Linked DNA regions of Homo sapiens: region 1 is linked to region 2. Evidence: fine-mapped expression QTL. Tissue or cell type: whole blood. Region 2 holds a variant in brackets; the other region holds the start of a gene. All regions are shown on one strand. Distances are from middle to middle.

Region 1 (16,304 bases), 58 kb after region 2:
TCGTCTCCCCGGCCACCAGCCCGGGAATCCCAGTCGGTCTCCTTGCAGCCCAACCAGGTCTCGGTGTCGTACCCCACGGAGAGCAGCTGGGGGGTGCCCGCCAGGTACAGCTCCCCAGAGTGCCCCTGATACCTCCCTTCCACCCGCGTCATCAGCGCAGGGGGCAGAGCAGAGCCCCCGATGGGACAAGGTACGCGCGGCCTGGCAGCCCGACAGGTGACGGCCCCGGAAATGCGGCCCAACCGGGTGACCCCAGCCTCTCCCTCAAACAAAGGCCGCAGACAGCAGGGGGCCGCCGGGAGCTTCTTCAGCAAGTTCAGGTTCAAGTTCACAAGCTGGACTCTTAGCTGCGGGTTTGCCCAAAGGAACCTGAAAGAACCTGAAAGCAAAGACGGGGGAGGACACTCCGACCTCACATGGGGGCAGCAGAGGCAGTGATTTAAAAATGGCTTTCCAGAGACCCAGCCGCGCTCCCTGCCCTTGAGGCGGAGGCTGGAGGTCGCGAGTCGGTGGAGCCCCGCTCGGTGCTGCGGAGACTGCAGTGGCGGCTGGGACCCGGAGCCGTGGGCGAGGCCGGCGCGAAGAACTAAGGGAGGACTCAGGCGACAACTCCAGCAGCCTCTCCACTTGGTCCCCCGAAGCGCCGGTCCAGAAGCTCCTCGGCCTCCACGAGCGTCGCCACCCAGGTCACCACGCCTGGGGGCCGAGAGGTTCAGCTGCTCGCACCCGGGCCCCGCATCTTGGTCCCGAGCGTCTTCCCCGGGCCTTCTCCCCTCTCTTGCCGGTCTCCGCCTTCCCTTCCGCCTTCCTGCGCTGCAAAATAAACAAAGACTAGTCTGAACAGAAGGAACAGGCGTTCAGAGCGCCAGCTCCCCCACCACCCCTCCGTTTCTCTTCCCACTGCTGCCCCTTAGTTGCGTGAGTCTGGGCTCCAGCGAGTTCACAGCAGCGACTGCTCCCACCCCACCCCGCTGTCTCTCCCCTCTGTTTTCCTGGCCTTCACTTCCGGACGGTGTCCCCCCTCCATGGGCGTGGGACAAGCAGAGCAAAGTGGCGCCCGTCTGCTAACTCCAGGCCGGCATGGGAGTGGATGGTTGTGGCCACTTGGATGGTGGTAGCCCCTTCATCTCTCAATTTATTTTTCTGCTGTTGCTGTTCTTGAGAAACTGAGGCGCAGACCAAGAGATCCCCCTCCCCCGGCTCTTCCTGTCTTCAGCTCAGAGGGGTCCAGGAGAAAATGACTTGGCTCTTGAAGCAGACAGGGGCTGGGGCACCCTAGCAAGTGGCTGGCCCCTCCCTGCCCAGCATCTCCTCTTGAACTTAGGTTCTCCTAGGGATCGAAGGCGTAATAAAGAGAATGCGATTTTTCGGAGGAAGCGGGTACCATGTATGGCCTTTAGGCTTCTATAAGGACTTTTACTCTGAGAGAATGAGGTTTTCACAGAGAATTGACATGATCTGATTATGTTTTAACAATATCCCTGTGTTTGATAAAGTGTTTACAGGGACAAGGACAGGAGTAGGCAGACCCTAGGAAATACGGCCATGGTCCAGGCGACATGATGGTGGCCTGGACCAGGCTTGTGGAAGCAAGTGTGGGCATAGGACCCTGTGGCTGGAGGCTGGTGCCTGCTGAATTCACTTTCTGAGGGCCCTCCAGTAGGACTCTCTCTGCCTCCCAGGCCCAGTATGGCCTTACTTCCAGTTCTGTGCCTCCCAGACTCCCTCTTCAGCTGATACCAGAAGATTCAGGTAGCAGAGGCCAAAGAGAGTAATATGAGATTTAAGTTAATAAATACATAACTAAAGGAGATGACATAGAGGAAGAGAAGGTCATCCATTCATCAGCTGCAAGCAACAGAAACCAACTCAGGTTAATTTCAATGGGAAAGGTGTTTGTGATAATGATATTGGGTGGATTACATTGCCAGCATGTATGAAGAGCCAGGTTCTATGAAACACAGGCTCACCAAGACATGACACAGCTCACCTAATGTTGACATCCCTACCAACACTAACAAGCAAAAGACTCTACAGCCTGCACCACCAACCCCTCCACTACTGCACTGTGACACTGCCTCTAGCTCTGCTGCCACAGCTGCACTAGGAATTCAGTCTGAATGGAGGCTCTCAGTCCCTGCTTCTTTGAGTTACTGGTTCCTGCTTCCATGGCTGAATCTGATTAGTGGAATGTACCTCACTTGGTCATGTCCTAGCTCCAAGGGAGTCTAGGCAAGCAAGAGTTTGGCATTTTCATCTCCCATTGGGTGAGGCAGTCTCTCCTCCACACTATGGCTAATAATGTTGAAAAAGATTCCAAACATACACTGGATTTTAGATGCTAAGCAGAGCTAAAAATTCACAAATGTCCATAAGAAAATGTAAATCAGATTGGGACCAGTGAATGTCCTATCTATAATATTACTAGACTGATTTCCTTCTGTGGCTGTGATCCACAGTACCAGAAGGAAATTATAAAAATATAAAAATGTTCCATTTTGTTTGTAAGTGATTTAGCCTTCTGAGAAAACTCAATGATTAATATTTATTTGGGTATTTGTTTAAATATTATTGTCGACATGATAAATTTTTTATAAAACGTGTGTGATATATGTATATATGTAGGTATAGATATGTATGGATAGACACATGATAGATAAGACACTCAAACACTGACAATATCATTATATCATTTGACACTCATCTTGATCCAGCTATAACTAGAGCTAAAAAAAACTCTTGGAATTTCCAGGTATTGAAACAAATAAATTACCTTTTGTGTTTCAGCTAGTTTGAGATGACTTTCTGTGTCACTTGTACCCAACAGAGTCTGGAATAAAAAAAAAATTTAAATATTATTGATACTTAACATTTGTTTATTCTATTTGGACTTATAAATGGACTTATATGAGAGATTTTTAATTAGTATCAGAAGTAAATGAGTTAATAAAAACTGAAATGATTGTAGATTTATTTTTATAACTTTTATGTCTACAGCTATGATAAATTTTTATATTTTAAATTTCTATATATACAGTTTTTTTGTTTTTTGTTGTTGTTGTTTGTTTGTTTCTTTTTTTTTTTTTTGAGATACAGTCTTGCTCTATCACCCAGGCTAGAGTACAATGGCATGATCTTGGCTCACTGCAACCTCCACCTCCCAGATTCAAGTGATTCTCATGCCTCAGCCTCCCAAGTAGCTAGGATTACAGGCATGTGCCACCACGCCCAGCTAATTTTTGTATTTTTGGTAGAGATGGGGTTTCATGATGTTAGTCAGTGGATCTTGAACTCCTGGCTTCAAGTGATCTGCCCGCCTAGGCCTCCCAAAGTGCTGGGATTACAGGCATGAATCGCCACACCCCAACATAAATTTTCTATATTTTTAAGGTATAGTTTCTCCTAATGTGTGTAGGTAGGACATAATCATGCTTTACAAAAAGGAGAGATGTTCTGCTGGATTTTGAAAAATTATTTTTAAGTTCCAAGCAAGACAGGTTCTATTTGTTCCTGGAAAGGTAATTGTTTTGACATAGATTTAATGTCATTGTGTGAAGAAAGAATATATTTTAACACTTAAGCTACTTATATGTGAGGAAAAGGAGTAAGGAAGATAAGTTTTTGATTAAATAAATATAGTAATAGCATAAAATTAAGGCTCAACTATGCATCAGACTCTAGGGCTGATACCATCTTATCCTTAACACAGACATACCACACACATAGTTACTTTGCCCTAAGGATTCTAGAGCACTAAAATAGTGTATAAAAATGTATATAAGGCCAGACACGGTGGCTCAAGCCTATAGTCCCAGCATGTTGGGAGGTCAAGGTATATGAGGTCAGGAGTTTGAGACAAGCCTGGCCAACATGGAGAAACACATCTCTACTAAAGATACAAAAATTAGCTGGGCAGGGTGGTGTCCATGTAATTCTAGCTACTCAGGAGACTGAGGGATGAGAATTGCCTGCACCCGGGAGGCAGAGGTTGCAGTGAGCAGAGATTGGGCCACTGCACTCCAGCCTGGGTGACAGTCAGACTCCATCTCAAAAAAATAAAAAATAAATGTATACAAGAATGTTATGAGACACTTCCCACTAATCATCAGAAAATGAACATGGACATATACCTTTACTCCCTCCCATAGCTCACTATAAGGATCCTAAAGATATTAATTTAAAAGGTCAAACCACAGAATGAATAGAAGTGGCAAAGAGACAACAGCAATACAATTTTGGAAGCAACAATGCAGATGTTTTATTAGCAGTTTTTAGCAAAGATGAGAAAGCGAAAACCTAAGCCAGCAGTGGCAGAAATATAAACAGAGTAGTTTCTGCTGCAAATCCCTCAAAAGCCCTGAATTGGAGGTGGCATGTGCCCAATGGTGGAACAGGTAAGATGAAAAATAGGGGAACTGGAAGTCTCAATACTTAGCAGTCCATATCCACTCCCCACTGGCAGTAAACTGGTTTATTCTCCAGAGATGTCAATTCAGCAAAGCTCTGGACTTTAGGACCAGAGTCGCCCTAAAGGCAGTAAGACTGTTCTGAAAACCAGGGAGCAAGTGACAGGGTACATTCCAAACAGACTATTTGACCCCCTTATCGATAAGGATCCCAGAATATTGATGGCTAATTTAGGGTGCAGCATTCAGGCTTGGTTTATTTTCTTCTTTCTATATGTTTTTCATTCTTTACAATGAACATATATGATGTACGCAGTTTTAAAAAATCTAGGAGGTGAATAATTTTCAACCCAGAATTCTATATCCAGCCAAACTATCTGTTGTGCTACTCCAAAATATAAAGGATTATTGAGCTGCAGGTAATTAAGAAGAAGCAGATGCAGAGAAGCTCTCTGCCATCCCTCTATTTGCCTAAAAGCAGGACATACAAAAACTAAAAGTATTCTGCCTCCCTTCTACCAGGGAGACCAAAAGATAACCACATAAGACAACTTTAAACTGTTACCACCTGGAGATGATACCAGGGAAATCTCCATTAACAAACATTACTAGCTAGCCTTTATTTGCTATGCATTTGCCTTCCCACAAGTTGCCACTCCTAAAGTTCTTTTCCTTTACCTCTCCAGAAATTTGCTGTTCATTATTGAAGATGCTATATCAGCCAGAATTCAAAGCCAATTCTGAGAACTACTCATTCCCTGGGTGTCTCTGGTGTATGTATGAAATACACATGTTAATACACTTCTGTTTTTCTCTTGTTGATCTGTCTTGTATTACAGAAGTTCATTTCAACTAAGAACTTACTGTTGAAGAAAATGATTACTCTTCCTCTATACAACCAATTATGAGAGTAGATTGAAACATTTATCTCACATGCAAGGCCTCATATTTACCTCCAGACATGCTATAGCAGAGCCTTCTGAAAGATGCACTCTATCAAAATGAAGGCGTACTACCAGAAAGAAAACCAGCCACATATTCACAGAAATAGGGGATCCAATATATGAGAGAAAAAAATTGAATTGTCAGGATAACAGTAAGAAAACATCTCAGGGCCTACAGAATAAGTAGTCCAGATTGGAACAGGAGAAAAGAGGGGTTCAGAAGCAAAGAATGCCTTCCGTAGGGCCGACTCATCCATTAGGCTGAGTAGGCATAGTGCTTGAGGGCCCATGACGCTGTTAGGAATTTACAAAAATGTCGTCATTTTAATTTCCTTTAAAATTAGGAGATAAAATTAATATAATAACAGTGACTATATGATAATAAATCCACCCTGATCATATTTACCTTTATACCAACGTGGCTGTAAAATAATTTTTATTTTTTATGGAGGAAGGAGCTCATGAAGGCAATGTACCTAGGACCGTGGCCTCCAGGAAAAAAAGGAAAATAAAAGAAACTGGATAGTTTCATTTGAATGTATCAAAAGGCACTTAAGACTTGTCAGAATTTGGCAGAATGAACTGATAATAACTACTTAGAAAACTAACTAAACAAAAATCAAGGCAATGCATAGTCAAGGAAAAACAAAAGCAAAGGTCTACAAAAAAGAAGTAAACCTAATACACTACAAGTTCATCTGTGAATAATATTTACATTGTCAAAATAAACACTAAACACTGATAAGATTTTTAAAAATATGATATTGCAAGATTAAGAAATGAAAGAAGAAGCTACATGCCCAGTTGTAAGACAGCCAACTCCTCATCTTTTGTAGAAGAAAGGCAATAGATAAGAACCAAACTGAAAAATAAATAGTATGAGAGGTATATTATAGGCTTGTGACAGTAAACAATAGAAAAAAAAACAGTTAAAAGAGATGAAAGTTGTTGCCTTTGGAGAGTGAGAATCAGAGATGGAGAAGAGTGGATAATGGTGTAATTTGCATTACATGACATACAACTTTTTGACTTTATGAACAAGAACCTAAGTTACCTTAATGAAATTTACAATTAAAGAACTTTAAGGATTGTTGAGAGTTAATATAATTAAATGAAGAATTTTCTACTTTTCTAAGTGTTTATGTATTAATTTTTTTAACATTTAAGAAGTGTGAAAAATGATTGAATTACATGGTAGCCTACTTAGATGCCATGAAAGATGTGCTCATGGGACATTAAAGAGATTGAGTAGACTGTGAGGCCAAAGTGAAATTCCAACCTGATGGAAGTGAACAGGGAATACTTCAAAAAGAGAAGAATGACTGAAAATGAGGAAAGTGAAAAATGCTAAAACTGGTTAAACAGAAGGGTCAGGAACAGTCAATATGTTATAGTCAGTATGGAAGAATACAATATACATTATGTATATGAGCTTTTCATGAGAAGACATGGGGGAAGAGTTAAACAATAGAATAACAACCATAATATTTTATTAATAACTATTATGAGCTGCTAAAATGGCATATATTTGGTAGGATATTAGTATATAAAAAAGGCTTGAGGTATTTAAAAATCTGTTCCCAGAAAATTATCCCCAAAAGTCAAAATATATATTTCATAGTTCTTTTAAATCCCTGACTTTCCAGCCACATATTCATACCACAATGCTGCACACTAAGCTGTAGATGGTTGAGTGATATGGTTTTGAAAAGATAATAAAAGAAAATTGAAAAGACACTCTTAGGTAAAACAAAAAGAAAATATTTCTCTCAGACAATTTAAAACTTAGGTAGTATAAGATAATTAGGGTTTTTAAAGAAGTCACTTTACAGAAGAAAGGAAATAAAAATTTTGCTGACCATGGCATATTTAAGAAAAAAAATCCAAGCAAAGAGGGGAAGAGTTATGATGAGCAGTGAGCAGTGAGGTATAAGCCCAACACTTTTCAGCCCACTGAAGTGTCCTGCCTACAGAACTCAAGGCAATTTCAGACTTCCTATCGACTGACATAGGTTTGGGGGTGCGGGAAATGACTCAAATGCTGCCCAAAATATATTTTTAAAAACTTTTTCCCTGATAAGCTTTTTAAGCCAGATAATGAAACCAAGTTGTTCGTGTTTCATATTTGAGAATCTAAGTACTGGATAAATAATAAGGGCTATCAATTATTGGGGGCTTTAATAATTCTTCAAACATTTAATGAGTGTCTTCTGGGTGCCAGGCGCTGGGACTATAGCTGTAAACTAAACAGGTGGCTACCTCCACAGAGTTTATAGTCTAAGGATTAAAAAATTAGACCTTGCACAATAGTGGGAGGAGACGGGGAAGTAAGGCCACCGTTGGAAGGTGGAGAATTGGAGAAAAGTCTCTATTCACCTCTCCTGAAGTAGTCAAGTGAAGGAAAAGTCACAGGTTACATATAGAGAACTGGGAACATCCAGTTGCAAGAGTGAGACCACAACAGGAGCTGGCGAAGAAGTGCATGGAAGGCTGTTGCCTCTGCATTGACTGTGGGTTTGGGGCTGCTGTTGGTCAGCAAGGCAGGCAGAAAAGGACACCAGCTGGAGTCAAGACAGAGGCAGGCGAGGACAAGCTAGAGCCCACAAGCAGTACATCTACACTTCTCTCCTTCCGCACCAGCTACACAGAGTAACGGTTACTCTTTCACTTCTGCTTCCCAAATCTGGCATAGATATATCTTTTGGCCAAACCTGATATGGAGACATAATGGAAATGAAGTTCTAGCTTAGGCCAGTTGATACAAAACCAGCACGGTCCATCCCTTGTCAAATTGGCGGCCGAGAGCACCTCCTTTTACCATATTTAATTTCCAGTAGCAAAATCTTGCTTCAACCTAAGGTGCAACTAACCCTGCTACAACTAGAAACACCCTAAACCTCTCTCCAATGAGGATATGAAGTCCCGTAGGACTTACCGCATAGGTCACTTTATCTTTGGGGAAAGTTCATCCTTTTCTAGCTGAGTCACACTGCCCTTTTAATATCCTGAGATACATGCTGAACTACAATACTATTGACACGTTTTATGTTCAATAGTAGAATGGATGGAGGAAGAGAAAGAAAATGAACCAGTATTATATTTGCAAAATGAAAATCAATCCTTCTGAAATATTTAAACGGTTTCTGCCTTTGTAGGAGACCGTTTGGTAACGTATCGAAATCCATAACGGCCGTGATTGGCGCGCAAGCGCGGGGCTGCCCAGGGGCCCTCCTTGCCTCCCGCCTTATGGGCCCGGAAGGTCCTTCTTTCCCCTAGCTTGGACTCCAGCTCCTGCCCGCGGAGCTTGGTCTAGCTGCGGGAAGCATTGAAGCACAAGGAGAGTACTTTTGCACAATGACCTCCAAATTTTACTTTGAGGACTTTATCATAGTGAAACTACCATGGCTGTAGCTTATATCGGTTTTTTTTTAAATGAAAATAACCTAATTATGCAACAGCGGGAGGGTTGCTTGAGTAAATTATTGTTAACTCCAAATGACAGAATAATGTATGAAACAATTAAAAATAATTTGTTAAAACAATGAATGACTTAGAAAGATTTTTATTATTAAGTGAGAATAAAAGCAGAAACCTAAAAGATATATTCAGTATGAGCTCATTTCTGTAAAATGATGTATTTTACAGAGGAGAATAAAGTTTAAAGCATGCAAACCAACGTGGTAACTGTATTAAACCTACTTAATAACAAGAAGCTATTCATAGTAAATAAGTTGAATTTATAGAAAGAAATTTACTATGAGGACAAAAAAGGATAAACAGGAAAATATTTGCAAAACAGATAATCTAACGTATAACCAGTTCCTTCAATTAAATAAGAAAATAAGAATCCAATAGCAAAAATGAGGACATGTTTAGAAAAAGAAATAAAACATTTTAAACATGTGAAGTGTTTTATTTCATTTCTGCTAAGAAAAAGCAAATTAAAACAAAAATCTAATATTATTTTAACCATCAGAAAGCTTGACACATTGAGTTGACAAGAGTAAAGGAAAACAGGCATCCCGATATATTGCCAGTGGGAGTAGAAATTGCTGACACCTCTATGAAAAAAATACGCAAGCCAAAATTTTCAATAATGTGCCCCTAAACCCAACAATTTTACTTTAAAGTGTAGACATTCATTGCAGCATTTTTTATAATCTGAAAAAAACAGAAACAAATGTACAGATAAGAACTGGTTAAATAAATTATGGCAAAGCCATACAATGAAATACTCTGTGATGATTAAAAATAGTAAGGCACTTCTTCATGCAATTATATGGAAAGATCCCCAATATATATCAAGTAAAGGATTTTAGGTATATAATGGTATAATTAAACCCTACCATTTTTGTAAAAATAAAATATGTGTGTATACACACATATCAGGTATGCACACCCACATTCCTATATGGGCATAAAACATCTCTAGAATGGAACAACAACAAAAAATTGATAAATTGCTCCCTCTATAATTTTGAGGAAGCTCCCAACAGCTAATTAATTTTTGTTCTTTGCCCTAAACCTGCCCCTTTTTTCATTTTTTTCATTTCCAAAAAGGTACTACCATTGATTGTCTCAGAAAAGTAGAAATGAGATTTGTTCCTTCTCTTGTCCTCACCCAACCCCCATTAAATCAGTTATCAAATCCTGCTAACTTTATTTCCAAAACAAGTCTCAACTTTATCTACTTGTATTACAGATGTTGGCTATTTATCAACGTTTTCTGTTCCTTTCAACCTTAGTCATAGACGTCCTGATTTTCAACTAGACCTGTAGTAACCTAGAGTAAACATTTTATTGTCTATCTTCCATTGTAATCACATGGGGCCATGCTACTGAGTGCTTTCCAATGAGCTGTAACTGCAAGCATCACGTATAATTTCTAGAAATTCTCTTACAGGAAAGGGATGTATCTTTTTTCCTCCCTTCATCATTCACGTTGTCTGGGATGAAAACAACATGACTGGAATTAAAGCAGCCACCGTCAATGAGGAGGTTGAAGTCACGTATTGACAAAATGGAAGGAATCTGGTCCCTAAGAATGGTGGAGCCACCAATTGAATTCTAGGCTATGTACAGATTTCAGTTATGCGAGAGAGGAATAAATATCTGTCCAAGCCACTGTAATTTGGAGTTTCAGTTACAGCTACTCCAAATCCCAAATGATAAAATGTCTCTGTATTTCAATGGCCAACCACCTGACCAAAGCCCAGTCCATTTCACCTGAACTGCTGCAACAGCTTCCTAACTGTTCTATCCACATCCCACCTTGACCTCTTCCTCTGCTGAATTCTCCACACCTCAATAAGAACATGCTTGTAATATATATATGTATATATACGTATATATACATATATATGTATATATACATATATATGTGTGTATATATATATATATATATATATATGATCGAATCCTCCCTTTTTTTTACAATCCTTTAAGAAATTCCCATTAGTTTTAGAGTAAGTTTAAATTCTCAACATAGCCTATTCAATCTTACATTGTCTGGCTCCTAAAACTTCAGCTCATCCCTCGCTGCTTCCCCCCCTCACTCACTGGGCTCCAATCACATGGAAGTTTCAGATATCCTGTGCCCTCTACTGTTAGATTCACCTTAAATCTTCTGTCTCCAGTCCCTACTGCCTACTAAGTCTACTAATCAAATCTTTCGGGTCTCTGGTAAAATGCAACTTCCTCAGGAATTATAGTCAGGAATCATGACTATACTTTCTCATGACATCTTGGATTATGCCTTATAGTCCTTATTTCCTGCATGGTTAGCATGGTTATTTGTGCAATTATTCCTTTAATGTAGAGGTTTCAAATGGTATGTAGGACTAATCTGCTTACAGATGCATTCCATGGTCCACACAGTATTTCTTTTGAAAAGCTTTAATCAGTGCATTCTCTTTTTGGTTTGTCACACTTCCCATCAATTCACACCATTTCACAAATTTAGGTCCCTTTCCTGCCTCCTGCAGGCCTTTGCACATTTGGCCTGCCTCTCCTACTAAACTAGAGTCTCCATGAGGGTAAGGATGGTGCCTGTCTTCCTCATCACTCTATGCCCACTATCTGACATCCTTAAGACCTATCAAGGTGCTCTGGAAATCCTTGCCTAAGGAATAAAGCCAATGAATGAGCTGTTTTCATTGCCATTATTAGCAGCCTTTTTCTTCCTTTGGTTTTATTTTTAATACCAGATACCATAAGTAGATAAGTGTGGTGGAAGTATCCATTTGGTAACTATTTCACATGAAATTTTGAACAAATTTAGCACAAGACTCTGAACCTTAAGGCAAACTTTCACTTTTTATCCACTGGACTAAATAGAAAGTAAATTCATATAGTTACACTTTTGAATTTTGAGAAGTTTACAAAAATATTTCATCCAGGCCATTCTATTTCTATTCCCTAGGAGTTAGGCACCTCACTGACAGTGCCCCCAATTCTCCAAAGGCTTTTTAGCTCAAGGTTTAAAAAATGAAATGTAACTTTTAAAAAAGCAATCTGTCCTCCCTGATGGCAACTCCAAAAAATAAACCCAGATCACACTGCTTAAACGTTTTATGACAGCAAACATTGTGCTTAATACAAAACAGGAATTTTCAATTTGTCAATAATAAGAAAATGAAGATGCAAAACAAAATGTCTCTGTATTTTCCAGATATTTTATTTTTATGTTTCATATTTTCTTATTCTTCAAAGGGACAGAAGTTTGAGGTTTTGTATTTATTTTCTAAAGCTGTGGCCTTCTATATTTTGACAGAAAGTATTAGGGCTGAGTTACTTCTAAAAATTCCAGGTTCTCCACTCTTATAACACATTTACATTGACTTGAAAATTTTTCATTGCACCTACACACACATTTTTTGTAGGTTTTCCTCACTTGGTGAAGACTGCAATGTTGTTAATACCTCTGAAGCATTTTAGAGTTACCCAAACTCTAGATGAAAATTCTACAATAAGGAAATTCAGCAGGATGCTAAATAAGCAATATTGCTCTTTCTCTATAATTGTTGTCAAAATGTTAAAAGCTAAGCCTTCCAGCCAAAACAAAAAGAAATGATAATTTTCTGGATTGGATCAATGGTCCATTCAGGCCAATAGCATCTTCAACAATTCATTTGGGAGGTGATTTGCCCCTAACTATAATGTTAACAAGAACAGTGTTTCTCCAAGCATTTCAGAGTCTCTTAATCATGGTTCTTTTATTTGTGAATATATAAAAACATTTTTAAACTCATAATATTTCCCTTGACTTACTGTCCACCAGAGGAAGTGGTATTTTCTCTTACTTGGCTTAAGCATTCTTAAGCTGCAAAGGTAACTAACTACTCTCTCTTGTGTTCCAGGATTCAGTGAAACGGTCTCTATTGATAGCCAGATCAGACTGTGAATGAATGACCTTTTAAAACAGCCAGGTGTTTATCTCCCAGTGCATCCTTCCCTCTCTTCAGGATAAATCTTGGACAGTTAAGCTTATCCTCATGAGGTATCCTTCCCATGATATTTTTCCTGAAAAATTCCACTTGGCCTTTGAGAAGTGACTCACAACCATCTAAGGAAAAAGATACTCCAAAACAGGGCTCCAACTGGGTGGGCCTAGGCCATCTCAATGTCTCCAGTCCAGATCAACAAGGAACAGAAATACTGAGGGGTGGAAGAAATGACGAAGAAGCAGGGAGGAGGTTGGTAAGCAGTAGGCAGGTGAGGGGATCCACATCCACTGGATTGATAAGAAAGTTTGATTCCACAGCAAATACACCAGTCTAGAGTGTTCACAAAAACCCTTCAGACATTTTAGTTATGGGCACTGTCAAAGTTTGTTACAATCTTGCTTCAAGGACAAAGGCCTCCAGTAAGCCAATCAGAAATATTAATACATTCTTCATAAGAACATTTGATAGGAAAATACAAAAAGAAGAGAATGTTTGTTAAAAGCCACTAGATTGTTGAATGTCATTCAGTGGGGTAGATAGGTGACTGGTTTCCTAGAACAAGACTTTGGTCCATTAATGTTTTCCAGAATATTACTTAAGCATTTTGTCAGGAATGTTAATTTCTTCTCAGAATGAGGTTGCAAATTACATCATGTAAAAAGATTCCTTCCCACACCAGGTTTGGGGCAACTTCTCTTTTATAGTAGTCAGTTTCAAGGCAGTGACCAGAATTCATATGACAGTCAAGAATTGGAAACAATATAGCAGAGTGTGAGTTTTGCAGTCAAACGGACCTGAGTGGTGAACCTTAGTATTAGCTGATTCATGTGTAAAATGAGGGTAAAATAATAACTACCTTGTTAGGGAGGAGATACTAATAAATACTATTTCATTCTTGTTATTTATTTTCTCTGAATTTTTACAATTGATCACTTTTATATTAATCATTTTTATTCATCATCTTAATAATAAAAAATATTTGTTATTATTTTAAAGCATTATTATTTAAACATATTTATTATTTTTATGTGCTCATAGCAGCCAGGATCTGTATCTCCACATATCATTGCCTATTTCAAGGTCCTGAGGTAAGGTTTTAAAATTTAGAAAACACTTGAACACCAGAATCTGTTAGGCAATGTTATTCAAACACTAAGTTCCCCACACTATGGAAGTCAGGCAAAGTCCTAGACCAAATACCATTCTGAGCAAAGTTTTCACATACAAAATAATGTGTTAGTAGAACTAACTGTCTCTTCCCAGTAGCCCATTGCCATGGTAATCCACCAGACAAAATAGGATCGAAGAAAATATTTCTAATGCTTTCTTGTTCCAAGGCCTTGGCTTGCAATTTTGTCTTCTCAATAGACCATTAGCAAGTTCGTAGTGCCCTGTGCCAAACATCAAAAATTCAGATAAACTCAGGTTTATGTGTCAGTCATATTCTTCCCTTTTCTACCTTCAACCAGGGAATCCATGTGACCATTTTCCAGCCATTCTGGGAGTCCTCTGAGCAGCCAGAACAGAAGCATGGCCCAGCCTCCCCACAGCTGAGTCAGGCCCTTATATAATGAGTCCTATTGTTCCTCAATAAAAGCAATTTCTGTATTTCAAGATGTACGTCAAAGAAACATTTAACGGCAACTCAAACACTGCATTTTTCAATACTGGGTTAAATTCTTTTTTTTTTTTACAATCAGTAATTCATTTACTTCACCTGTATACCTATCACAACAGTCAATCCACTGTTTCATAATTCCTTGTTTGATCATCTGATGCTCCTACTAGCCTGTGAGCTGGGGGGCCGGGAGAGAGTCTGCCTTGCTCAGTGCTTTACATCTGCAGCCCAGCACAGTGCCTGATGGCAAAAGCACAAAGTATAAGTGATCAAATAAATATTCTATTATAATTGATTACTTGAAATTGTGAAAAACAAAATTCACCAGACAATTAAGGAGATGATTTTATTTAGGCTGTTGCAATGAGGAGAATGTTCATTTTGTGAAAGAAAGGGAAGGGGTTCTGGGCTTTTATAGAGTTGGGTAGACAAAGAAGCTATCCTTGAATCATGAGGAGGGATGGAGACAGTTCCTACCTTGGCAAGATGCGAGGACAAGGTATTCTTTTGCAGTTAACCATTTCCCGGGATACAAAAGAATGGGCAAAATTCTCAACAGGTGCTGCTTTCCAGAAACACAAGGCTCAGATAAAGTGCAACATTATCCAAATTAAATATGTAAAGCATAAAGCACAGAGACTAAGAACACGCAATAGCATGATAGGCACTTCTAGCTGGATAAAATGGTTTAGAATAAACAGAAAAGGCAACCTTTCCCTGGACACAATCACTAGAAGTTTCCTGGTGGCAGCTGCTCCCAGGAGTGTCTGAGATCCTTGCCCACTTCTCACTCCAGGCTGACCGCTAGGTTCCCAAATGTCAAAGACCCTCACTTGTCTCCTCCCATCACTCTCACTGCCTACTTCTCAGGTCATGTCCCTTGGAGGCTTCTTCAGTATCTATCACAGTGCCCAAGCTGTCCTGTATAGTAGGTGCTCTCCAAACATATAAATTATATGAACTTACTTATATTATATATTTATTTAGTTATATAAATTTTAATTATATGAGTTTAATTTAATAAACATATAAATTATATGAATTTAATTTAATTCAATTATATGAATTTAATGAATGCATGGCCAAGAGCTGAAGTTTTGGAAAATCTAATGTCATACTGATTATCATGGTTTTCTGTCTTCACGGAGAAAACAATTACATTGGCGAATCTCTGTGACGGCAGATTTGCTCCACCCTGGAGTCTTTTTCCTGTGTCATATTTTAGAATCATCCTTTTAAAATATTTTGAATTTTTCTGTTCTAAATGCATTACACTGCACATGTCCACACTTAAGAGGTCCATGTCGTCCAGGCACAGTGACTCATGCCTGTAATCCCAGCACTTTGGGATGCCCAGGCAGCAGATCACCTGAGGTCAGGAGTTCGAGACCAGCCTGGCCAACATGGTAAAACCCCGTCTCTACTAAAAATACAAAAATTAGCCAGGAGTGGTGGCACGTGCCTGTATTTCTAGCTACTTGGGAGACTGAGGAATCAGAATCACTTGAACCCGGGAGGTGGAGGTTGCAGTGAGTAAAGACTGCGCCATTGCACTCCAGCCTGGGTGACAGAGTGAAACTCTTCTAAAAAAAAATAAAAGTCTATGTTTACTGCTTTCCTACATATTAGAACAGCCTCCTAAATTTTCCCTGCATTGGTACTCATCCACTTAGCTTTTCCATATCCAGAGTAGTTCAGCATTAGCTGCAGACTTTGGAGATTTCACTGTGTGAGCCCTTCTCTGGATCATTTATAAATGTTTTAAATAAGATTGAGCCAGACCAATCCCTGAGGAACCCCACTGTGTTTACCCTTTTCCTTCCAAACAAATGTGCATTTCTACTGATTCACTTTGTTTCCTGTCTCTAAGCCAGTTCTAAATCTGTGACAA
Region 2 (16,304 bases):
AAAAATGAACAAAGTCTCTAAGAAATATGGGATTATGTAAAATGGACAAACCTTGGTGCTCCTGAAAGAGAAGAAAAAGCAAAATGTTTGAAAAACTTATTTAGGGGAATAATTGAGGAAAATTGCTCTACCCTTGCTAGAAGTTTAGACATCCAAAAACAGCAAACTGAAAAAAATCCTAAGAGATTCATTGCAAAAAAAGACATCACCAAGGCATCTAGTCATCAGGCTATCTAAATTCAACATGAAGGAAAGAATTCTAAGAATAGAGAGACAAAAACAGGTAAGTTATAGAAGAAAACCTATCAGACTAACGGCAAACTTCCCAGCAGAAACCTTACAAGCTACAAGGAATTGGGTTTCTATCTTTGGCCTCCTTAAACAGAATAACTTCTCAGCCAGGAATTTTGCGTCCAGCAAAAGTAAGATTTATAAATGAAGGACAAATAAAGCCTATTTCAGACAAGCAAATACTAAGGGAATTTGGCACTACCAGACTAGTCCTATAAGAAATGCTAAAAGGAGTTCTAAATCTTGAAACAAAGGTCGGTATGCACCAGAATAGAACTTCTTGAAAGCACAAAACTCACAGGACCTATAAAACAGTACCATAATGAAGAAAACAAAGTAACTAGGTAACAATCAACATGATGACTGGAACAATACCACATGTCTCAATATTAATGTTGAATATAAATGAACCAAATGCTCCACTTAAAAGATGCAGATTGGCAGAATGGATTTAAAAAAATGGTCAAACAAATATCTGCTGTCTTCAAGAGACATACCTAACAATTAAGGGATTCTTATAGACACAAGGTAAAAGATACTCCACATAAATGGAAACCAAAAGTGAGCAATAGTAGCTATCAGGTAAAACAGACTTTAAAGCAACAACTAAAGCAACAACCATTTAAAAAAGAGACAAAGAAGGTCATTATATAATGATAAAACAATCAATCCAAGAAGAAGATTTTACAATTCTAAGTATATATGACCTAACTCTGGAACTCCCAGATGCATAAGACAATTACTACTAGACCTCAGAAAACAGACAGACAACAACACAATAATAGTGGGGGACTTCAGTACTCCACTGACAGCACTAAACAGATCATCAAGACACAAAGTCAACAAATAAATACTGGATTTGAATTGTGCCCTAGAACAAATGTACCTAACAAATATTTACAGAACATTCTACCCAAGAATTGCAGAATATACATTCTTCTCATGAACACATGAAACATTCTCCAAGATAGACCATATGATAGGCACAAAACAAATCTTAATAAATTTTTAAAAATGAAAGTCATATCAAATATCTTCCCAGACCACAGTGGAATAAAACTAGAAATCAATTTCAAAGGAACCCTCAAAACTGTACAAATACATGGAAATTACACAGTTTGCTCCTGAGTGATTTTGGAGTTAACAATAAAATCAAGATGGAAATTAAAAAGTTCTTCAAAATGAATAATAACAGTGACACAATTTGTCAAAACCTCTGGGATACAGCAAAAGCAGTTCTAAGGAAAAAGCTTATGACACTAAATGCCTACATCAAAAAGTCTGAAAAATCACAAATTGACAACCTAATATCACACCTCAAGGAACTAGAGAAACAAGTATAAACCAAACCAAAGTTATCAGAAGAAATAACAAGGATCAGAGAAGAACTAAATAAAATTGAAACCAACATATGATCATCTCAATAGATGCAGAAAAAGCAGTCAATAAAATCCAGCATCTCTTTCTGATAAAATTCCTCAACAAACTAGTTATATATATATATTATATATATATTATATATATATATAATATATATATATAATATATATTATATATATAATATATATATTATATATATATAATATATATATGATTAATTAAATGAAAACTTGGTTCTTCTAAGGATAAACAAAATTGATAGAACCATTAGCTAGTTTAAGCTTAACTAGAAATGAAAATGGAGATATTACAACCAACACCACAAAAATACAAAAGATTATTTGAGACTACTATGAACACTTCTACGCACATGAATTAGAAAACCTAGAGGAAATAGACAAATTCTTGGAAATATACAATCCTCTTAGCTTGAATAAGGAAAAAATAGAAATCCTGAACAGACCAATAACAAGCAGTGAGATTGAATCATGAACAAAAAATTCACCACCAACAAAAAAAAGCCCAGGGCCAGATGGATTCAGAGCCAAATTCTACCAGACATTCAAAGAAAAATTGGTACAGTCCTACTGAAACTATTCCAAATGATTGAGAAAGAGAAAAATCCTCCCTAACTCATTCTATGAAGCCAATATCACCCTGATACCAAAGCCAGGAAGGGACATCCAAAAACAGAAAATTACAGACCAATATCCTGGATGAACATAGATGCTAAATCCTCAAGAAAATACTAGGAAATAGCACATCAAAAAGATGATATACTATGATCAAGTGGGTTTCATCCCAGGGATGCAGGTATGGTTCAACATATGCAAGTCAATAAATGTGATTTATCACATAAACAGAATTAAAAATGAAAACCATATGATCATCTCAATAAATGCAGAAAAATCATTCAATAAAATCCAGCATCCTTTCTGATAAAATTCCTCAATGTACTAGTCATATAAGGAACATGCCTCAAAATAATAAAAGCTATATGTGACAGACCCACAGCCAACATCATGCTGAATGAGGAAAAGTTGAAAGCACTCCCTCTGAGGACTGGAAAAAGACATGGATGCCTACTTTCACCACTTGTATTCAACATAGTACTAGAAGTCCTAGCCAGAGAAACCAGGCAAGAGAAATATATAAAAGGCATCAAAATTGGAAAAGACAAAGTCAAATTATCACTGTTCACCAATGATATGATTGTATACCTAGGAAACACTAAAGACTCTTCCAAAAGACTCCTAGACCTGATAAACAAATTCAGCAAAGTTTCGGGTTACAAAATCAATGTACACAAAGTAGCACTGCTATACACCAACAGCAACCAAGCTAAAATCAAATAAAGAAGTCAATCTATCCCTTTTGCACAGACGAAAAATACATAAAATAAAATACCTAGGAATATACTTAACCAAGGAGGTGAAAGACCTCTACAACAACTCCAAAATACTGCTGAAAGAAATCATGGATGACACAAACAAATGGAAATACATCTCATGTTCACGGATTGGAAGAATCAATATCATGAAAATGACCATACTGCCAAAGCAATCTACATATTCAATGCAATCTCTATCAAAATATCAATATCATTTTTCACTGAATTAGAGAAAATAATCCTAAAATTCACACAGAACCAAAAAAAGAGCCTGAATAGGCAAAGTAATCCTAAGCAAAAAGAAGAAATACCAAGGCATCACATTACCTGACTTCAAATTATGCTACAAGGCTGTAGTAACCCAAACAGCATGGTACTGGTATAAATGTAGACACATAGATCAATGGAACAAAAAAAAAGAGCCCAGAAATGAATCCAAATACTTACAACCAACTAATCTTTGACAAAGTATACAAAAGGCACCCTATTCAATAAATTGTACTGGTAAAACTGAATGGCCACATGTAAGAAAATAAAACTGGATCCCTATCTCTCACCACATACAAAAATCAGCTCAAAATAGATTAAAGACTTCAATATAAGACCAGAAAACATAAAAATTCTAGAAGAAAAACTAGGGAAAACTCTTCTGGACATTGGCCTAAGCAAAGAATTTATGCCTAAAACCCCAAAAGCAAATGCAACAACAACAACAAAAAAATGGGATTTAATTCAACTAAAAAGTTTCTGCACAGCAAAAATAATAATAATAATGATAATAATAATAATAGAGTAAACAGACAACCCCAGAATGGATTTGCATCCAACAAAGGACTAATATCCAGAATCTACAAAGAACTCAAACAAATCAGCAAGAAAAAATAAATAATCCTAGCAAACAGTGGGCAAATGACATGAATAGACATTTCACAAAAGATGATATACAAATGGCAAAGAAATGTAAGAAAAATGCTCCACATCACTAATCATCAGGGAAATGGAAATTAAAATTATGAGATGCCACCTTTGGATAAACACTTCCCTAATCCAAAGAGCCAGAGTCACTTCTCCTTTGAATCACGAGAAACTTCAGGTTACCTGATTCCACAAAGGATCTGGGTCAGCTTACAGAGACTCCAATCAACAAAACTATAAAAGGTTTATTTTTCAAGTAAAATCCTAGGGGTATGTGCATTAGAACAGGTGGGTAAGCAGAAGGGAGAAGGACTATTGAGAAGGACAAAAGCACAGGTAAGCTGGCTCTAGGATGCTACTGTATTCCGGCCAGGTTTGAACAGGAAATTTAGCTCTGTGTTTCCAGACAGCAAAATCAAAAGGAAATGTGGTTAAGTATATAATACCTATTGCCCATAATATATCCATTGTTCATTTTTTTCTCAAGAGAAACAAAAATTTTTTATCACTTAGCCTTACATGCATTATCAAACTGCAAGTGCATTTGGACAAAGGTGTGTCTTACACATCTTTGAATTTCCAACAGCACCTAATGCAGTGCCTCGCCTCTAGCAGGTGATAATTAAATAACTATCCAATTAAATTTAACTCCTTTTATTTATTCATTCAACAGATATATATTGTACATTTACTAAGTGCCTGGCACTGTGCTAGGATTGCAACAACAGAGGCTCTTCTTCTCACACAGCTTATATTCCTCAAATACTCCTTGGCATCAATTATCCTAGGGAGAATACAACATTGAACACTTCTTATGACATGAAATTCTATAAGCTTGCCAAAATCTGTCTTTGTCTATTTGTTTGATCATGTACATTTAGAGAACAGAGGTTACAAATGTACCTGGAAGCTGAAGTCATGTTTTCTTTGACCCAGTGGGTGTTTTTAATTGTTTGCCAGTTGTGACGGTTTATTTTATGTGTCAACTTGGCTGGGCTATGTTGTGCCCAGATATCTGGTCAAACATTATTCTGGGTGTTTCTATGAGGGTATTTTTGAGCAAGAGAAACCTTGAGCAGAGTTTGAGTAAAGGAAGTTTCCCCCATGTGAGTAAGCTCCTTCAGAAAGACCAGTATTCCCCAGGAAGAGAGAATTCCCCAACAGACTGCTTTCAGACTTCATCTGCAACATTGGCTCTTCTGGGTTCTGGAGAAGACTGCCTTTAGACTGAAAGTAGAATGTCAGCTTTCCTGGATCTCCAGTCTGCCAGCTCACCCTGCAGATTATAGACTTGTCAGCCTCGATAGTCATGTGAGCAAATACCTTAGAAATTAATTAATTAATTAATATCCTGTTTATTCTGTTTCTCTGGAGAATTCTGACTAATCTACCAGCATTTAAAAATGGGAAGATTTCAGGCAAGAATTTATATTTCTAGCCTACATCAGTCAGAGTCCAACCTCAGAGAAAAGAAATAACTCTGAATCTTTGACACACGAAGTACATAATGGAGAAAATTGGTCATATAGGTGAAGCGAGAACTGATAAACAGGGAATTGTGAGGGAGCATAGAGATTAGCAACAAAAGGAAGCCACTGTCACATCGAAACGGGAGAGAGAGGAGGAGGCAGATATAGGGTGTGAAGGAAGGGATGAGGAGAGAACTAAGGTCACTCAGTGGAAGCCGGAGTTGTAATAGGCCTGTCTCTCAAAAGCTAGCGTCATTTTGGAGATATTTCTGTTGCTGGAGGCATTGTTCAAGGCTGAGAGGCAGGGTTAGAAACAACCAAGTTTCTCCCTTTTTCCTCACCCCCATCTCCCACCAGTGCCTCCCATTGGTAGGACCCAGACAGAAGCCAGCTGAAATGGAATCTGGAAACCGCAGCCTATAGGAGTCAGTCTGCACAATTTAAAGCTAAGCGGTGGGAGTGGAAGAATAGACTTAAGGGCAAAAAGATTGACTTCTGAGCAGTCTCCCCTGAAAAATAAGATATTACAACATGAGCCTTGCAATCTTGCTCACACCTGTGGGCTTGAGCTGAGTAGTAGCTGTGTCCCTTAGCCTGGGCACACTCTCCTCAGTTTGCCTTAAGTTGAACCTGCCCATTTTCTTCCATTAAGTTGCCTGCCTAGACCATACAGGCCTCTGTCACAGAGACTGGAAAACACAGAATACTGAGGCTGAAAAAGTGCTATGGATTGAATGTCTGTGTGTCCTCTCAAATTCACATGTTGAAACCCTAATTCCCAATGTGATGGTATTTGGAGGTGGGGCCTTTGAAAGGTAATCAGGTCATAAAAGTAGAGCCCTCATGAATGGGATTAGTCCTCTTATAAAAAGAGACAAAAGAGATGAACTCTCCCTCCTTTTCTCATGTGAGGATAAGCAAGAAGATGACTATCTTCAAACCAGGAAAAGAGCCCTGTCTTAGTCCATTTAGTGTTGATATAAGAGAATACTTGAGACTGGGTAGTTTGCAGGGAAAAGAGGTTTATTTATCTCATAATCCTGCAGGCTGTACAAGAAACATGGCATAGGCACCTGCTCAGCTTCTGGTGAGGGCCACATATTACGTCAAAAAATGGCAGAGAAAGTCAAAGGAAAAGTAGACACATGCAAAGCAGAACTAAAATCAAGAAGTATTCTGGCCTTACAACAACTCACTCTCTCAGGAACTAATCTGTTTCTGCAAGAACTAATTCCATCTTACTAGAGCGAGAACTCACTACCAGGAGAACAACAATAAGCCATTCATGACAGATCCTCCCCCATGGCCCAAACACTTCCCAACAGGCCCCACCTCCCCACACTGCCACATTGAGGATCAAATTTCAACATGAGATTTGGTGGGAACAAACAAGCCATAACCAAGCCATAGCATTCTGCCCCTGGCCCCCCAAAATTCATGTCCTTCTCACATTCAAAACACAATTAGACAATTTTCTCTTCTAATAGTTCCAAAAGTGTTCACTAGTCCCAGTATCAAGTCAAAAGTCCAAAGTCCAACATCTCATTTGAGACTCAAGGCAAGTTCCTTCTAGCTATAAACCTATAGGGAAATTTACATTTTTCCCCTTAAGATTCAATAATTTGAGTCTATAAAACAATCTGATACTAGACAGATTAGTAGGAAAAAGGCATTCAAATTTTATGACATACATATATGTGCACAAGAGTCATATAAAATATTAAAACTCAAAGAAATGTAAGAGGGTTGACACTTTTATACCATCTTGAGGTTACAGAAGAAATGAGGGCTCTAGAGCATGGCAAAATAGGTTATGGTAGCAAAACAGGTTATGGAAGGAAGAGAAGAGGAAACACCTTACTAGCAAAGGGGTCTTACTATGCAGATGAAACCTCACAGGTAGCAGCCTTCAGAAAAAAATAAATCGTAGCCAGCAGTAAATATTTCTGTCAGAGCTTTAAATTGTCAGACTCTCAATTCATCTTTCCCAGGTCCCAACAAGGGGGGCTTCAAAGAAAGCCTGTTTCTATCTGTTGTTTACTTCACTTCATTTCCTCCACAGATGCAAACCTCTCCCTCAAAAGTCAGTTTTTCATCTGTTCTGGTGTCAGCATCTGCTCAGTTTCTGGTGAG[G/A]GTCATATGCTAGGTCTAAATATAACATAGAAGGTTAAAGGAGAAGTGAACATACACAAAGAGGAAACAAACCCAAGCATATGGGTTCATCTTGCCCACTGCCCAAAAAAGCTATTGCACTAACAGCAGGTTTTTGTGGCAAAGGACTTATGATTAACACAGGGCTAACCAAGATGAAGCTTATTACTCAAATCAGCCTCCCCAAGAACTCAGTCTAAGGTTCTTATGGATAACTTGTGGGGGGTGGGGGGGTAGGGGGGGGTGGGGGGGGGCTAGGATAAGAAATCAGGTGCTACTGATTGGTTAGGGATGAAATTATAGAGGTATGGAAAATGGTTCTTGTGCACTGAGTCAGCCTCTGGAAGGGGGTCACAGGACCAATTGAGTCATCAGGCATGGGTCTAGGTGAAATCAATTTGTCACCAGAATACAAAAATCTAAACAATCTCAAAAGACCAATCTTACATTCTGCGATAGTGATGTTACCTGTAGGAGCAATTGGTGAAATTACAAGTCTGTGGCCTCTGCTTCATGACTCCTGAGCAGTAAGGGATTATAGGAAAACAAGCTAGGAAACAACAGCTGTTTATCATTTAACTATACTTACATTTTAGCAGAATTCAGGCCCCTCTCAGAATACTAATCTTGTGACCTTTCATTGTCTTACAAAGACTGTTTCAGTCTCCAAACAAGGAGCGGATCAGTTTTAGGAAGCGACTATTATTATCCTTGCTTCACAATTAAACTGTAAACTAAATTCTTCTCATGGTTAGCTTCGTCCATGCCCAGGAATGAGCGGAGACAGCCAGCCTGTGATGCTAGAGGCAAGACGGAGGCGGCCATGCCAGACTTCTCTCACGTCATAATCTTTGCAAAGGCAGTTTCACAATGGTTGTCTTGGTTTTATAACAACTCACTGTATCAGGAACTAATTCAGTCTCATGAGTACTAATCCTGTCCCACTAGAGCAAGAATTTACTGCTGAAAGAACTGCACCAAGCCATTGATGATGACCTAAGCATCTCCCACTAGGTTTTCCCTCCCAACACCACCACAAGTTTTAACATAAGATTTGCCAGGGATAAACAAGCCGTATCCAAAACTAGCACGTCCCCACCAGGAGCCAAATCAACAACACCTTGATCTTGAGCTTCCCAGCCTCCAGAACTGTGCAAAATAAATGTTTGTTGTTTAAGTCACCCAGTCTATGGTATTTATTATAGCAGCCCCCAAACGGACTCAGAGAGGGAAACTGAAAGATCATCTAGTCCAATCTAGGTACTTATCATATTACAGAGGAGAGAGTGAAACCCAGAGGGAGACAGATTTACCTAATTTGATAGGTGGCAGAGCCAAGCTGCTCTTTCAGTTTGGTGTTCTTTCCTGTACACATCTATCTGTGGAAAGGGGAATTTAAAATTCTCCCTCTAATCGCAGAGACAGTTCCCTGGGGAATGGCTGTATTTTAAAATGCAAAACAACAACCTAGACTTTTGAATAACAAAACGATTGGTTTAAATCAGGTGGAAAACCTATTTACAAAATGGGTTTAATATAAAAAAAATCTCCAAAACCTGATCTGAAGGAATTTTGCCTTCGTGTTTTTTTTCTTTTGCTATGTCTGAACATATTCTTTTTCCTTTAAAGTGACTTTAGAAGGAATACCTAATGAAGGCTACTACAATGATGCTTTTTTATGAATTAAAATAGTTGTTTCATTGTTTTGGATGACTACACTGGTTCTCTCGGTATCTTATTCTGTTAGGTGCTCTAGCTTTTATCTAACTCAAAAGAAAATAGGGAGGGGGAATCTTTTCTGGATTACCATATGCATTTGTGTCTTTTTCTGTCTTTCCCATATTTCATCACACAATTGGAGGAAAAATAATTTGTACAGCTCAGTAATTTGAATTTTAGAGCAAGTGTTCTGAAACTTCAGACTTACCAAAGAGGTATGAACTGGGTTTAATTGAATCTTAGTTGCTTAAGTAGGTTGAGGCGTTAATGTTTATCTGATTCTTCATCATCTGCTCCTGTTTGGACTCGTAAGCCTCTTCTCTAAATTGGTTTACTCCTTTCTCAGCACAGAGATTTGCCAGGAGAAATTTCTGGAAATTCAGCAGCAGGTGTCAGTGCTGCAAAGGTCCATCCAGTCAGGTAATCTCACAGCTTCCTCTCTTCTCATATCAACTGCAAACTATTTATTATGTAGGAAATATATGCTAATAAATATGGTAATCCATATCAGTTTTAATTATTTTAGTTTGCTTCACTATTTCAATAATAAAACATTAACAACCATTTGAGTTCACTAATTCTAGATTTCCAAAAAGTGATTCCTAGAATTTTAAAAGAAAAATATTTGGTTAACAACAATATTTCATGTTAGAAGAAAAGAAGGAAGAGATTCTGTCTGGAGGAAGAAGATTAGTTTTGGATTTTTTGTTTGTTTGTCTTCTCAATATATCTCTTTTTCTTAGGGTGAAAAGCTTATGTCATTTATAAAAATGAGGTTACAAATTAGCTCACTGGTGCTCATCAGTAGTTTATTAGTCTCAATCTTATTAATAATCATACTGTTCTTTCTGGGAAGCTAATAGCAAACTGAAGATCACTTTGAAAGATAATTGGCTTTGGCTTAGTAACAAAGCCATGTTTATAGATGTCTCTGGAAAAAAAGAAACCCACACACCATCAAATAATATTAGAGTGTCATGGTCCTTATGGCCAGATTAAGACTACTTCCAGGTGTCTCCCTTCCTCAGTAAGCTTCCTGTTTCCCACCAAACCAAAACCAGAACATATTGCTGACCAAAACACAAACGGTTTATATCCAGCCTGTTCTTCCTGAACAGTATCCAACTTTATTTGGAAGCAGAAATTGCCTATTCTCTGGAGATGAGTTGTGATTAGCCAAATCAATTCTGTTCCTCACTTTCCCAGTCTCCTTGCAACTAAATATGGCCCGGTGATATAATCCTTGTCTAGAAAATATATGTGAAGGTGGCCTGATAAAGGATCTTACATGTCCTGCTCCTTCCCCATTTTTCCTGATGGCTGGACCTATAGCAGCCATCTCGTAGCCGTGAGGCAACCAACAGGAGAATGAAGGTGTACACGCGAAGAATAACAGTTCAGAATGATAGAAAGTAACTGGGTCCCTGATGGGAGAGTTGAGAAGATGAGCCTACAACAGTAACCACCTACCCCTGGAATGCCAATAATGTAAAAACAAAAATCTTAATAAATTATTGGTGTAAGCTACTGCTGGCGTTTCTAACTGCTATAACCTCCTTTTCCCAGGAAAATCCTAGAACCTTTGTCTGTGACACTATTCTTCCATTTACTCTGATAAAAATAAAAGAACAAAAACATCTTGTTGTCCATATTCTTACACCATTAAAACAACATGCACAGGGTTAGGATTTTCATCAGTTTGACAATTTACTAAAGTGTTTAATTTACTTCTGTGCCAGAAAAATCTTGTAGCTGCATCCAAACTGATTATTTATAACGTGAGATGTTATTTGAATGACAGTGTATTTTATTTTCCAATTACATTTTGTTTAAGAGGTAAAATATCCATTTATAAAACTACTGCTGCTATAAAATGGTTTTACTATTAAAATCTAGATCCCTTAATTTATTCATATAGAATCCATTATAGTATACAATTTGGATGGACTGGGGTCATAATAAGAAGTCTCTTTTAATATCAGAAACAAACAATAACAGAAGCAGATTTAATCTGTCAGCCTTAATCTTAAACTCCAGATAAATTCTGCTTTACCTATCTCAAACAAGTGAAACAAGAGTGATTAGAAGTTAATAAAATCAGTATGTAGTATAAAATAGATGCTAAATAAAGTTAATGAGTCAAGATAATATAATTCTGACTACACAGGATACTAGTTTATAGTATCTGAAGTTTCAGCAAACAAGTTGAATCCCAGCTGAGTTCCAACCTAACTATATGTACTTAATGTTCTTTAACATATAAGTTCAGGTATCCAAAATAGATAAATGAGAGCTAAAATAATAAACACTGTATAATTATTTCATACTCTTCCAAGGTTTTCATAAAATCTTTAATTGAATCCATCACAAAATTATTAATATATAAACTGGTCAATTCAAGTATCTAGTTTCACTATATCTTTTCATTACAGTAACCAGTTGCTAGATTGAAGTGTTTCCCACATAAGATGTTTCTTATGTAGAATGACTTGATAGGAGCTATAAAGAAAGGTTATGTAACATAATGGGCAGTGCACATACTTCAGAGACAAAATAGAGTTCATTCTTTGCAATTGATCACTGTGCATCCTTGGGCTAGTCACTTAATTTTACTGAGCTTCAGTTTCCTCCAAGGTTGAATCGAGATCATACCTACCTTTAAAGATTGTTGTGAAAATCATTTTATAAATAAGTATCCTGTCAAACTACAAGCCGGTGAAACCCTAATTTTATGATGCTAAAAATTAGTTGGTTCTGAATCACTTAATGCCTATATGAAATACCTGCAGTATAGATTATATGCTTGTAGCAATTCAAGTCCTAATAGAAAAAACCAAAGAGGCATCTTGATACCTTAGAAACATCTGGATAGACACAGATGAGAATTGTAAAGCACCAGAATGTCCTGAGACCTCTGAGGTGACAGAATCAAATCCCTTCCCCTTGTAAGAGAAGAAAAGCTTCCTCCTCCTTGGAGGGAGATCTTATAAAAATGTCATCAGATATTTGTCCTTCCCAATATTCACCCTCTTTTCCCCTCAACATAAACCCCTAATGCTACTACATACTGGCAGGATTTAGAGGAAAATGTGGGAGATAGAGCTGAGGGATGTTGGACAAGGAAGATAGAATATAAGTTTGGATAGAAGCAAGTGTATTAACATAGGAGTACTTTTCTATGATTCAAGGCTTAATATCATACAAAGCCTTTGTAACTGGTCATAATACGCTGCTGGGATAGGCTTGACATGGCAATGTCCTAGAATAAAATATATGGGGATGCTGAAACTGTGTTACTGTATTTTGAGGAAATGGTCAAAAGGCTTATGGAAGTGGAAGTGTTACAATATATTTATGAGAGCCTAAGAACCCCCCCACATGATTCTGTTCTCCAGAAGGATCCAGAGGACATTAAAGAATGCATTATTTATTTTCAGATATGGGAACAGCAGCATAAAACTATAATCCCTACAAGTGAATTGCGCCCTACAACTGATCCAGCTTATTGCTAGAAGCAGTTTCCAGGTTACAGCACAGGGAAGAGTACCCAAATAGAGCCCAGGAGTCTCCTTGAATTGAACAAATAGAAACTAAACTTTAGGGAAATTAAGACAACTAAAATGTGTAGGACAAAATACTGAAGAGGTAAGAGCTTCACAGAGGGAGACCTCTGGACTTCCACAGAGTGATCCCTTTGAGTCTTTGGCTGAGTACTGATCAGTACCTTTTTGTGGTGACACCTCACAAGGCTAGAGAAAGAAACACCGGACAGAAGTAGGATGAATAATTCCTGGAAACTACAGCAAGAGTGGAGAGATATCACCACCCCATCAGCCAGACTGAAGAGACCTTGTAATACATTGAGCACTGGGAAGCCTTGTGAGAAGAGTATTACCTTAGCAGTGACTCTAAGTTAGCCCTGACTGAAGCTTGTCTGGACCCACCCTAACAGAGCTTACAAACAAACCACTAAAGAGTTAAACTGATCCTAAGTAAATTGACTGAACGAAGCCTGATACTCTTTAAAGAAATACAATAAAATTTAATACCTAACAATATGAAATTTACAGTGTTCAGTGACCAACACACAAGGCATGTAAAGAAGCAGGAAACATGACCCATAACAATAAGAAAAATCAACCAATAGAAAACACTCAGAAATGGCAGAATTTAGTAATAGGATAGTAAAACAGCTATTATAAACATGTTCCATATAATCAGAAATATAAAGGAAAACATGAATATGGTCAAAGAGATACAAAGAATTGTATTCAAGTTACAAGATAAAGTCATCTTTTCTCTTCCAAGCCTCATGGTAACCTCAAATCTAAAAACAGACAATGGATACACAAAAAAATAAAAAGCAAGACATTAAAACATACCACCAGAAAAAAATGACCTTCACTAAAAGGAAGATAGGAAGGAAGGAAAAATGAAGAGAAGACAACAAAACAACCAGAAAACAACAAAATGCAGGAGTAAGTCCTTACTCATCAACAGTAACATTGAATGTAAATGGTCTAAACTCTCAAAACAAAAGACACAGACTGGCTGAATGAATCAAAAAGAAAAAAAAGACCCAATGAACCCAGTGACTTTTTGCCTACAAAAAACAGACTTCACCTGTAAAGACACACATGGACTGAAATTAAGGGGGATGGGAAAAGATAGTCCATGCAAATGGAAAACAAACAAACAAAAAAAAAAAACAAGAGTAATTATACTTATATTATATTAGACTACATAGCTTTCAATAGAAAAACTATAAAAACAGACAAAGAAGGTCATATAGTGAAAAAGCAGTCAATTCAGCAAGAGGACATAACAATTTTAAATATATATGCACCCAACAAAGGAGCACCCAGACATATAAAGGAAATATTATTAGAGCTAAAGAGAGAGAGAGACCTCAGTACAAAAATAACTGTAGACTTCAACACCCCACCTTTGGCGTTGGACAGATCATCCAGAGAGAAAATCGACAAAGAAATATTGGACTCATTATGTACTATAGACCAAATGGACCTAATAGATATTTACAGAACATTTCATCCAATGGCTGCAGAATACACATTCTCCTCAGGACATGGATCATTATCAAGGAGAGACCCTATTTTAGGCCACAAAACAAGTCTTAAAACATTCAAAAATTGAAATCATATCAAGAATCCTCTTTCACCACAGTACAATAAAACTAGAAACCAATAATAAGAGGAATTTTGGAAACTATACAAACACATGGAAATTAAACAATATGCTCCTGAATGACCAGTAATCTAGTGAAGAGATTAAGAAGGAAATTTTAAAATTTCTTGAAACAAGTGATAATGGAAAAACAACATACCAAAACCTATGGAATACAGTGAAGGCAGTAATGAGCTATAAGTGCCTACATCAAAAAGGAAGAAAAATTTTACATAAACAACCTAATGATGCATCTGAAAGAACCAGAAGAGCAAGCCAAATGCAAAGTTAGTGGATGAAAAGAAATAATAAAGATCTGAGTAGAAATAAATAAAGAAAACCATACAAAATATCAACAAAACAAGAAGTTGCTTTTTTGAAAAGAAAAATTGACAGACCTTTGGCTAGCATAGCTAAGAAAAAAGAGAGGACATTGAAATAAATAAAATCAGAGATGAAAAAGGAGACATTACAACCAATACCACAGAAATTCAAAGGATCACCAGAGGCTACTATAAGCAATTATATGACAATAAATTGGAAAACCTTGAAAAAAAATGAATCAATTCCTACACACATGAAACCTACCAAGATTGAACCATAAAGGAATCCAAAACCTGAATAGACCAATAACAAGTAATGAGATCAAAGCTGTAATAAGTAGTCTCCCAGTAAAGAAAAAGAACTAATACCAATTCTACTCAAACTATTCCAAAAAATAGAGGAAGAGTGAATACTTCTAAACTCATTGTATGACACCAGTATTACCTTAATACCAAAACCAGAGTCATATCCGAAAAAGAAAAGTAAAGGCCAATATCCCTATGCAAAAATCCTCAACAAAATGCCAGCAAACCAAATTCAACAACACATTTAAAAGATAACCTATTAGGACCAAGTGGAATTTATCCCAGGGATGCAAGGATGGTTCAACATACACAAAGCCATAAACGTGATACATCACATCACAGAATGAAGGACAAAAACCATATGATCATTCCAACTGACGCTGGAAAAGTATTTAATAAAATTTGTCATCCCGCAAGATAAAAACTCTCAAAACACTGAGTATAGAAGGAACACACCTAAACATAATAAAAGTCACATACAACAGATCCACATCTAGTATTATACAGAATGAGGATAAACTGAAAGCCTTTCCTCTAAGATATGGTATACAAGGTTGCCCACTTTCACCACTGATATTCTACATATTACTGGAAGTCTTAGCTAGAGCAATCAAACAAGAGAAAGAAATAAAGGGCATCAAAATCAGAAAGGAAGAAGTCAAATTAACATTGTTTTTATGATATGATCTTATCTTTGGAAAAACCTAAAAACTCCACACAAAAAAAAACTATTAGAACTGTAATAGTTCTAATAGTCAGTAAAGTCAGTAAAGTTGCAGGATATAAAATCAATATACAAAAACCAGTAGCATTTACATATGCCACAGCAAACAATATGAAAAAGAAATCAAGAAAGTAATCCCATTTATAACAGTTACAAATAAAATTCAATATCCAGTTATTAACCAAAGAAGTGAAAGATCTCCACAATGAAAACTATAAAACACTAATGAAAGAATTTGAAAAGGACACCAAAAAAATGGAAAAATATTACCTGTTCATGGATTGGAAGAATCAATATTGTTAAAACTTTCATACTACCCAAAGCAATCTACAGATTCAATATAATCCCTATCAAAATACTAATGACATTCTTCATAGAAGTAGAAAAAACAATCCTACAATTCATATGGACCACAAAAGACCCAGAATAGCCAAAGCTATCCTAAGCAAAAA

What was found.
Region 1: it holds the start of LINC00865, and the variant in region 2 is fine-mapped to the expression of LINC00865 in whole blood (TOPMed, PIP above 0.99).

The regions. Positions count from the first base shown.
Region 1 is chr10:89,821,727-89,838,030 of GRCh38, reverse strand. LINC00865 (long intergenic non-protein coding RNA 865) reads right to left here and starts at 8,538. Exons shown (of 4, transcript NR_038382.1): 1 at 8,286-8,538; 2 at 7,727-8,061; 3 at 2,774-2,830; 4 at 1-813. LOC105378424 (a long non-coding RNA gene) reads left to right here and starts at 7,210. Exons shown (of 3, transcript XR_946196.3): 1 at 7,210-7,999; 2 at 12,709-12,848; 3 at 14,265-14,511. RefSeq lists a silencer at 96-155.
Region 2 is chr10:89,880,169-89,896,472 of GRCh38, reverse strand. The region is part of intron 1 of LINC01374 (long intergenic non-protein coding RNA 1374); the gene reads right to left. Among named protein-coding and RNA genes, the nearest start is that of LINC01374, 34 kb to the right of the region's middle. The variant G/A (reference allele first, on the strand shown) is at 7,579.